Linked DNA regions of Homo sapiens: region 1 is linked to region 2. Evidence: fine-mapped expression QTL. A gene starts in region 2. The other region holds a variant in brackets. All regions are shown on one strand. Distances are from middle to middle. Region 1 overlaps DHX34 (DExH-box helicase 34). Region 2 holds the start of BICRA (BRD4 interacting chromatin remodeling complex associated protein).

Region 1 (4,376 bases), 230 kb before region 2:
CTGCCCCGGTGGAGGCTGAGGCCGAACTCAGATCATGGATGCCCTTGCATGGGCACCGGCAGCAGAGCCATGGGCCCCATGGCAGCCACTGCCCTGCCCCTAGTGCTCCTCGAGCGTCTTTGTGATCCTAGGCCTGGCCTCGGAGTCCTCACGCAGCCCTGTGGGTCTCCCTTTATAGAGGGGACTGAAGCTCAGGCAGGGGCGGGGATACGTCACCTAAGTCACACACCGAGCAGGTGGCCAAGCCAGAGCTCCTGGGTCACACTGCCCCCTCCTGCCTCCTGGCTCACTACCAGCACTCCCCGGCTTGGGTCCCAGGGAACGTGGAGGGGAGAGAGGAACCTGCAGGCTCCTAGAGCCTCAGGGTTTTGTTGACACTGCGATTGCCACCAACACCACAAAAGCCAGCTCAGCTCAGTCACTTCTGTGTGTGTCCACACCTCCCTCGAGCCCGTCTGGTGGGCCAGGCACTGTTAGTGTTCAGTGTTCTGGGGCCGGGGGTGCAGCTGTGGTCAATGTCAACCAAACTCCCCACCCTCATGGGGCTCAGATAGGATGGTAGAGGCAGACGGCAAACCAAAAGGGTGATGCCAGGTGCTCATGTGAGCATGGGAAAGCAGGCAGCACGCAGGCCGAGGGACAGAGGATTGGCGACCAGCCGGGCCGCAGGAAGCGGAACAGACCTGCTACCTGAGGCGCTCTCTCCCTGCACTGGACTGCTTGTTGAGAGAATCTGGCCAGCTCACACCTGGAATCCCAGCACCTTGGGAGGCTGAGGTGGGAGGATTGTTTGAGCCCAGGAGTTCAAAGGCAGCCTGGGCAACATAGGGAGACTCTATCTATCTCTACAAAAAATTTTAAAAAGTTAGCTGGGCGTGGTGTTGTGTGCCTGTAATCCCAGCTACTCGGGAGGCTGAGGCAGGAGGATTGCTTGAGCCTGGGAGATTGAGGCTGCAGTGAGCTGTGATTGTTGACACTGCACTCCAGCCTGGGTGACAGAGTGAGACACTGTCTCAAAAAATAATAAGCCGGGCATGGTGGCTCACGCCTATAATCCCGGCACTTTGGGAGGCCGAGGTGTGTGGATCAGTTGAGGCCAGGAGTTTGGGACCAGCCTAGCCAATGTGGTGAAACCCCATCTCTACTAAAAATACAAAAATTAGCCGGGTGGGTGGCGCGTGCCTGTAATCCCAGCTACTAGGGAGGCTGAGGCAGGAAAATCGCTTGAACCTGGGAGGTGGAGGTTGCAGTGAGCCAAGATTGCGCCATTGCATTCCAGCCTGGGCAACAGAGTGAGACTCATCTCAAATAAATAAATAAATTAATAATAATAATAATAAGAAGAAGAAGATGGAGAAACTTCACATTCACATAAGCAGGCAGAACAGTATATGGAGCCCTCCTGTACCATCCCCGGTCCCCAAACCATCCACGCATGGCCAGTCCTGCCCTTTCCTCTGCCCTGGCCCCAGCCCTGAGGATTTTCCCCAACATCTTATGAGCCACAGCACTGGTAATTACAGCGCTGACTTCCGTCCTCACAGAGGAGCGTGTGCTCAGGGTCTGGGCTCTCCCTGCACGTCGTGTGTGTCTGAGTGCCTGCTGTCCCTCTGCCACCCTGCCTGAGAATGCAGCTGTCTCTCTCCCAGCACGCTCCCATCTGCCGCCCCGCCACCCCAGCCCCCTTCCCTGACTCAGCGGCTGCCTTGTTCATGCCGTATCCCCAGCACCCGAAGGGGTGCCTGGTACAGCGGGTAGATGGCGGGTAGGTGGATGCCTCACATAGACAGGGCTGGTGGGTGGGCAGGAGCCCAGCCGGGCAGGGCCTGTCTCCAATAGCGCCCTGCCCCTCCCACCTACTCCCTGTCTTCTGCCCCCTCTCTTTCAGTCCCTCCTGCTTTTTAGCCGGTCTTTGGACACCAATGGTGACTGCTCCCGCCTGGTGGCCGATGGCTGGCTGGAGCTGCAGCTAGCAGACAGTGAAAGTGCCATCCGACTCCTGGCGGCTTCCCTGCGG[C/T]TCCGTGCCCGCTGGGAAAGTGCCCTGGACCGGCAGCTGGCGCACCAGGCCCAGCAGCAGCTGGAGGAGGAGGAGGAGGATACGCCAGTCAGCCCCAAGGAGGTGGCCACCCTGAGCAAGGAACTCCTGCAATTCACGGCATCCAAGGTACCCTCCACCAGGGTGCCCGTGCCTCCCTATGGCCAGAAGGGGCATCCGTCACTGGGCTTGAGCCTCGGGAAGGCCTGGCTTCCCATTCACTCCACATGGGCACATTTGGGGGTTTTCAGGCCACAGAGGTTCAGTCACTTACACAAGGTCACTCCACTGGTCTGGGTGGAGCTAGGATTTGATCCCAGGAGCCTGGTTCCAGAGGCCACACTACCCACTGCTGCCTTGTTTACTAAGCACCTTCTGCAAGCGTGGCTGATCCCCTCTTGCTAACAGTAAAGGACAGGCAGGGTGTGAGAGGGAAGCCGTAGACGTCTGCTTGTGGATGGGAAGAACTGAACTGAGCAGACTTGAAACCAGCCCCTGACTCTTAGGTGGGGAGTGGAAATTGCTCGTGGTTCTACTTCATGTGGGTGGGGTGGGGAGAAGGGTACAATCCAGGCTGACTTCCTGGAGTAGAAGGGCTTGAGGACAAAGGAGCAGGAACCCAGTGAGCCATGGAGAGGGGACCAAGGCTGACATGCTAGGAGGAGGAGGGGGGAGGTGGCCAGACTTGAAGGTTAGACTCAAGGTCTGAATGGGGTCCCACCAGTGACAGGGGCAGAAGAGGGGCCTGGGGAGGGCAATTTAGATGGGGGTGGGTTATCAGGTATATTCTAGACAGACCCCTGGTCATGTGTGTCTGCAGCCAAATTGTGATTGGTGTAAGCACTTGGCTCCCGTAACTGCAAAGCCCGAGGGAGGGCTTCAGGCACAGCTGGATCCAGGTGCTTTGGCGGCATCTCCCTGAGTCTGTCTCTCTCCATTTCCTGTCTCTCCTTCCTTAGATTCCTTACAGCCTCCGGCGGCTCACAGGGCTAGAAGTCCAGAACATGTATGTGGGACCCCAGACCATCCCAGCCACCCCCCATCTTCCTGGCCTCTTTGGCAGCTCCACCCTGTCCCCCCACCCCACAAAGGGGGGCTACGCAGTCACTGACTTCCTCACCTACAACTGCCTCACGGTAAGCATGAACCCTCCTTCCCTGAAGGTGGGATTTCAGGAAGACCCCACCACCCCGTTTCACCTTAGTCCAGGGACATAGTTCCCAAGTGGGGCCCGTGGCCCTGAGGGCTTCTGGGAAGGGTCCCGGGGGGGCACTTGGGTGGTGGGTGGCACTTGGCGGGGGCCCAGCCCTGACAGCTGGCCTGCCACAGAATGACACAGACCTGTACAGCGACTGTCTCCGAACCTTCTGGACCTGCCCCCACTGTGGCCTGCATGCGCCCCTCACGCCCCTGGAGCGCATCGCCCATGAGAACACCTGCCCCCAGGCCCCACAGGATGGGCCCCCAGGTAAGCACAGGACTGTGGGGACCCGGCCACCTCTGCCCAGCCGTCTGCCCATCCCATGATGGTCTCCTGTGCGTGTGAGCACTTGCTAGAGCTTCGAGGACTGACGACCTCCACCCGCTGGCCCTGGCTGGTGCCACACACAGGCCTTGTCCTGAAGATCAGGAGCCCAAGGCAGGGAGAGCCTGGAGCGCCACCTCTTTCTGTCTGCCTGTCCCCTGTGGTGTCTCTGTGTTGCTGTCTTTGTCTCTGTTTCTGTCTCTCTGTGGCTATGTCTCTTGTTATTTTTCTCTGTCCTGCAGCTATCTCTGCCTTGGTCACCTCCACCCTGTTGTCACCCAGGGATGCCACACACTGGGGTTCAGTGGGGGAGATAGCACTGGGGCCACATGCCTCCATCCCCGGCTGGCTGTGTCTGCCTCTCAGTCTCCATGTCTCTCCTTGTGTCTTTCTCTCTGTCTCTCTCACTGGCAGGGATGCGGAGTAAAGACAGACCTGTGTATTTTTATTAATCTGGGAGGGCTTCCTGGAGGAGGCAAAACTGGGTTCTCCAAAGGCCAGGAGAGAACCTGAGCCCCACAGGTGCCTGGCATTTGGGTGCAGGTAGACCTGTGCACTGGAACACGCCCCTCACAGCCTCCTCCTTTTCCTCCCTTAGGGGCTGAGGAAGCTGCCCTCGAAACCCTCCAGAAGACATCTGTCCTGCAGAGGCCCTACCACTGCGAGGCCTGCGGGAAGGACTTCCTCTTTACACCCACAGAGGTGCTGCGCCACCGGAAGCAGCACGTGTGAGCTGGGCCAGGAGCCCTGCCCACCTCCGTGCAGCTGACCTGCCCTCCAGCCCAGGACTAGGGGCAGGACTCTTGCCTGAACCCC
Region 2 (4,376 bases):
CACTTCCTCTCAGGTGCAGCTCTCCCTAGCTCATTCTTCCTCATGACCCTATGAAATGAGGCCTATTATTATCAGCATGTTAAAGATGAGGACACACAGAGGTGAGGTAATTTGTCCACTGTCACACAGCAAGAAAGTGGCAAAGGCAGGATATGAACCAGGGGCTGACTGGTTTCAGTCAGGGCCCTTACCCTCTGTGGTCTCTCAAAATTAATTTCTTCTTCTTCTTTTTTTTTTTGAGACAGGGTCTTGCTGTCTCCCAGACTGGAGTGCAGTGGCATGACTATGGGGAACTACAACCTCGACTTCCTGGACTCAAGCGATCCTCCTGCCTCAGCCTCCCAAGTAGCTGGGAGTACAAGCACACACCACCATGCTGGGCTAATTTTTGTTTGGACAGGGTCTCGCTATGTTGCCCAGGCTGGATAAATTATTATTATTATTACTATTTTTGAGACAGAGTTTCCCTCTTGTCGCCCAGGCTGGAGTGCAATGGTGTGATCTCGGCTCACTGCAACCTCTGCCTTCCGGATTCAAGCGATTCTCCTGCCTCAGCCTCCCAAGCAGCTGGGATTACAGGCGTGCACCACCACACCCAGCTAAGTTTTGTATTATTAGTAGAGAAGGGGTTTCACCATGTTGGCCAGGCTGGTCTCGAACTCCTGACCTCAGGTGATCTACCCTCCTCGGCCTCCCAAAGTGTTGGGATTACAGGTGTGAGCCACTGCGCCTGGCCGATAAATTATAAAAAAAAAAAATACGTTGAAGTAAATATTATGGGTAGTACCGCCAAGATACTAGAACACATGTTAAGGCTTAAAAAAACAGAGGCCGGGCACTTTGGGAGGCCGAGAATAGCTTGAACCCAGGGGACGGAGGTTGCGGTGAGCCTAGATCGTGCCACTGCACTCCAGCCTGGGCGAAAGAGCGAAACTCCGTCTCAAAACAAAACAAAATATAACACAACAACAACAAAATCACAATCTGTCTCGATTACTCATTTATTCAACCCGCATTCACCTACTGTGTGCACGAGCTTTTCTAGGGCACTGGGGAGGCAGAAGGGACTAAAACAAAGTATAAATCTCCCTGGGCTGCAAGCATCGGGAGGGCAGGTCCGGGGGCTCTGTGTCCCCACTGGGCCCCCAGCACTGCGCAGCGCACACAGTGGGCGCTCACCAAGCGCTCGCTAAGGGCAACGCGTGAATCCGTGTCCCGCCAGCAGGGCGTTTACGGCCTGGTGGGGCGGAAACGGACCCGACACCACCGCGGCGTCCTGGGGCTTCTGGGAATCCCATCAGCGCGGCCAGAGCGGCCGGGGACAGGCTCCGAGGCAGGCCCGACCCGCCTCCCCGGCGCCGCCGTGGCTCGACGGAGACCAGCTAGGGTGAGTGATCGAGCCACGCCTGGGGTCCCGGCCTGTCACCCCGAAGTCCCCGCCGCCTTCCACCCTGTCAGGCTCCAACTCTGGGCTCCGGCGCGGTCCCACCTCCGGGGGGAACTCCCCTCCATCCCCTCCATTTCCTTCATCCTCGACTCCCGCTATCTTTTCGGACCTGCGGCGCTCCCCCTGGACGCGTCCTCCCGCCGGACGACCGTCCTCCGCCTCAGGGGACGCGCCCAGGACGCACGGCGCCCCCTCCCCAGCCGGACCGGCGGTCTGGGAGCGCGGATCCCTTCAGCTCCCCCGCGCCCCAGCATCCGGATCAGGGCTCGAGGCAGTCGACAAACTACACCCGAGCTCGAGCAGGCGCGCCCCTGAACCCCCGGGACTGGGGCTGGGGGCGGGGGCGGCGCCGGCGCGGAGGGCCCAGTCCCCGGACGTCCGCAGCCTCCCATTGGCTCCGGGTCCCGCCGCTCGGCCTGGCGGGGCCGGGGCTGGTCCGCCCGGACGCGGGGCGGGGATTCCTGAAGCCCCTCCTCCGGCGAGGGCGGAGGGAAGAGGAGGAGGAGGAGGAGGAGGAAGGGGGTGGGGGGCGGAACACAAAACCTGAGAGGTTTTTTTTTTTTTTTTTCCGTTTGCATTTAATTAAAAAAAATTTTTTTTTTTTTTGCATACCCGAGGGGCGCTCCCCGGAACGGGCGCGGGCCCGGGGCGCGCGGGCCTGGGCGCGGGGCGGCGGCGGGGGCCCGGCAGCGGCTGCCGAGCGGCCGCCATGCGATCAGGCAGTGCGCTGACCGGCCCGGCCGGCCGGCCCCTTCTGGGTCCTCCCTTTGCAGCCCGTGCGGGGCCGTCTCGGAGACCCCGCGCCGACGGCTGCTCAAACATCAGGGTGAGTTTCTCACAATGTAGCAATTTCTCTTTAAATCTCTTAACTCTCTCTACCTGCGAGTCGGGGCTGTGACAGGGCGCAAAAGCGAGGGGGGAGTGGGGGTTGGCGGCGAGGGTGTGTGTGGGGGGAGCCGGAGCCGGGGCCGAACCCACCCCCGCGACACTCTCACACTCAGCCCCCCAGCCGGGGCGCAGCGCCCGCTGCCTCCTTTTTTTTTTTTTTTTTTTTTTCCTGCTCGGCGCCCACCGCCACCGGCACCCCCAGCCCCGCGTCTCTTCCACCACCGCCGCCGCCCCGATCCTATGGGGACCCCCCCCCAACCGGCTTCCCTGCCCAGACCCGGCGCCCAGTGCCTCCCCGGCCCTCCCGCCGGCTGCCGGGGATACAATGGAGCGGCGGAGAGAGGAGACCTAACGTTCCACGGGGGGAGGGGCGCGGAGACCCCCTCCCCGTCCCGGCCCCCTCCCCTCGCCCCGCTCCCCGCCTTTCGGGGAAGGCGAAGGCCACCGGGCAGCGGGCGGTGATCTCCCGGCCGGAGGCGGAGAGCCTGCATCTCCCCGCCTCGCTCGGCCCCTGCGCCCCCTCCCCAAATCCCTCCCGTGGGTGTCGCGGACAGTGGGGGGCCCTGGAAAGCTGGGGAGGGATGGATGGGGAAGGAGGCCACCGGGGCTCCCCCCTTCGCACCGCCCCTAAACAATGAAAGGAGTTGACTTGACCCCCAGCCCCCGGCAATAGAGGGAGGTGACCCCCTCCCCCACCCCCAGCTGAGGCTCATCCCGGAGGGGGCCGTTACGGGGGTGGGGGGGGTGAGCGCCTCCTGTCACTTCCCGAGGTTCGGGGCGGCCCCCCATCTCCTACCCCTCGGCCTGGGAACGGGAGGCACCAGGCCCGGCCGGGGCACCGCGCTCGGGTGGTGACCTTTAGACAAAGGCAGCCCTTTCCCCGGGGTGAGCCCGGACGAGCTGGGCCTGCGGCCTCCCCGGGCCCCTGCGGAGGGCAGCCAGGCCGCGGGCACCCGGAGGGAGGGATGGAGGAGGAGGGAGGAGGGATGGAGCCATCTGGTTTTCCCATCCCTGGCTGCCCCTCGTCTGCTTCCCCGACTCCTGTCACGGGCGGCCGCGGGGAGACGAGGGACCAGGGGCTGCTTGGGCCTTGGTGCGCGGCCAGCCGGGAGGACCGGGCAAGGAGCCGCGGGAGAGCTAGGCTCGGGCTCGGGCGCCGGCGGTGATTGGGAGGCACTGCGGCTTCTTCCTCTCCGCGCCCCTTTGTTTTGCTTTGTGGTTCTGAGCAGCTGAACTTCCCGGGAGGTGGGGTCAGAGGCCGCGGTGTCAGCTCTCCCGGGGAGGCCCAGGTGACAGGTCCTAGCTCTCTGGTGTCCCCATCCTGGTGGGCTGCAGTCTGTGCCCAGGCCCATGTCCTGACCATCGTCCCCTTTTGTCACCCCCCCCCCACACACACACCTACCTACCCACCCCATAGTATAATACAGATCTAGGGGTGCCTTTCTCTTACACCTCTTTACGGAGGGCACTTGAAAGGGAAACTAGAAACATCCAAGGCATCAAGGCCTGAGATTCATGATAAGCTCTCTGTGCTTTTAACCTCTCCCAGCACCTGGGGTGGGTGTGGGGGGTATTGTCAACTCTGACCTGCCCTGGGTCATGAGAAAATGGGAAGACAACTCAGGAAGCACCCCCTTCCCATGCACTGGTAGGACTTTTGGGACATGTTGACCTCCCTTGCCTTCCCTCATAGCTCCCCGCTCAAGATGGAAATATTAATAACAATATCAAACTAGGGAGCTTTATTCCGCTGCTGCTAAGTACATTACACGCTGGCCACAGTCCAAGGAGGAAATAGAGACGGGACAGACATTCCCGTTTTCCAGACAGGTTCATGGAGGCTCAGAGAGGTTAAGAAGCTTGCCCAGGGTCACACAGCCCTGGGTCACACAGAGCCCCAATTTGTAACCTCCTGGAGTTTTTCCAGCTTGGCTCAAAACTGTTAAGCCCTTCTTCTGTCCCACCCTTTGGCATTTTGTCCCCCTGACTTCAGTGGACCTGGTTCGGAAATGTAGATAATATTTAGAAGAAGCGGCCAGAT

Evidence for each region. PIP is the estimated chance that this variant, and not a neighbour inherited with it, causes the effect. A credible set is the group of variants that fine-mapping cannot tell apart.
Region 1: its variant is the best candidate, but not a certain one, in a credible set for the expression of BICRA in whole blood (INTERVAL, PIP 0.68).

Annotation. Positions count from the first base shown.
Region 1 is chr19:47,377,822-47,382,197 of GRCh38, forward strand. DHX34 (DExH-box helicase 34) reads left to right here. Exons shown (of 17, transcript NM_014681.6): 14 at 1,889-2,164; 15 at 2,995-3,171; 16 at 3,365-3,503; 17 at 4,159-4,376. The coding sequence ends at 4,292. Among named protein-coding and RNA genes, the nearest start is that of DHX34, 31 kb to the left of the region's middle. The variant C/T (reference allele first, on the strand shown) is at 2,018.
Region 2 is chr19:47,606,896-47,611,271 of GRCh38, forward strand. It overlaps BICRA (BRD4 interacting chromatin remodeling complex associated protein), which reads left to right and starts at 2,239. Exons shown (of 15, transcript NM_001394372.1): 1 at 2,239-2,273. It overlaps BICRA-AS2 (BICRA antisense RNA 2), which reads right to left and starts at 1,734. Exons shown (of 1, transcript NR_186352.1): 1 at 978-1,734. RefSeq lists silencers at 1,244-1,323, 1,394-1,443, 1,494-1,573, 1,634-2,013, 2,124-2,173 and 4 more.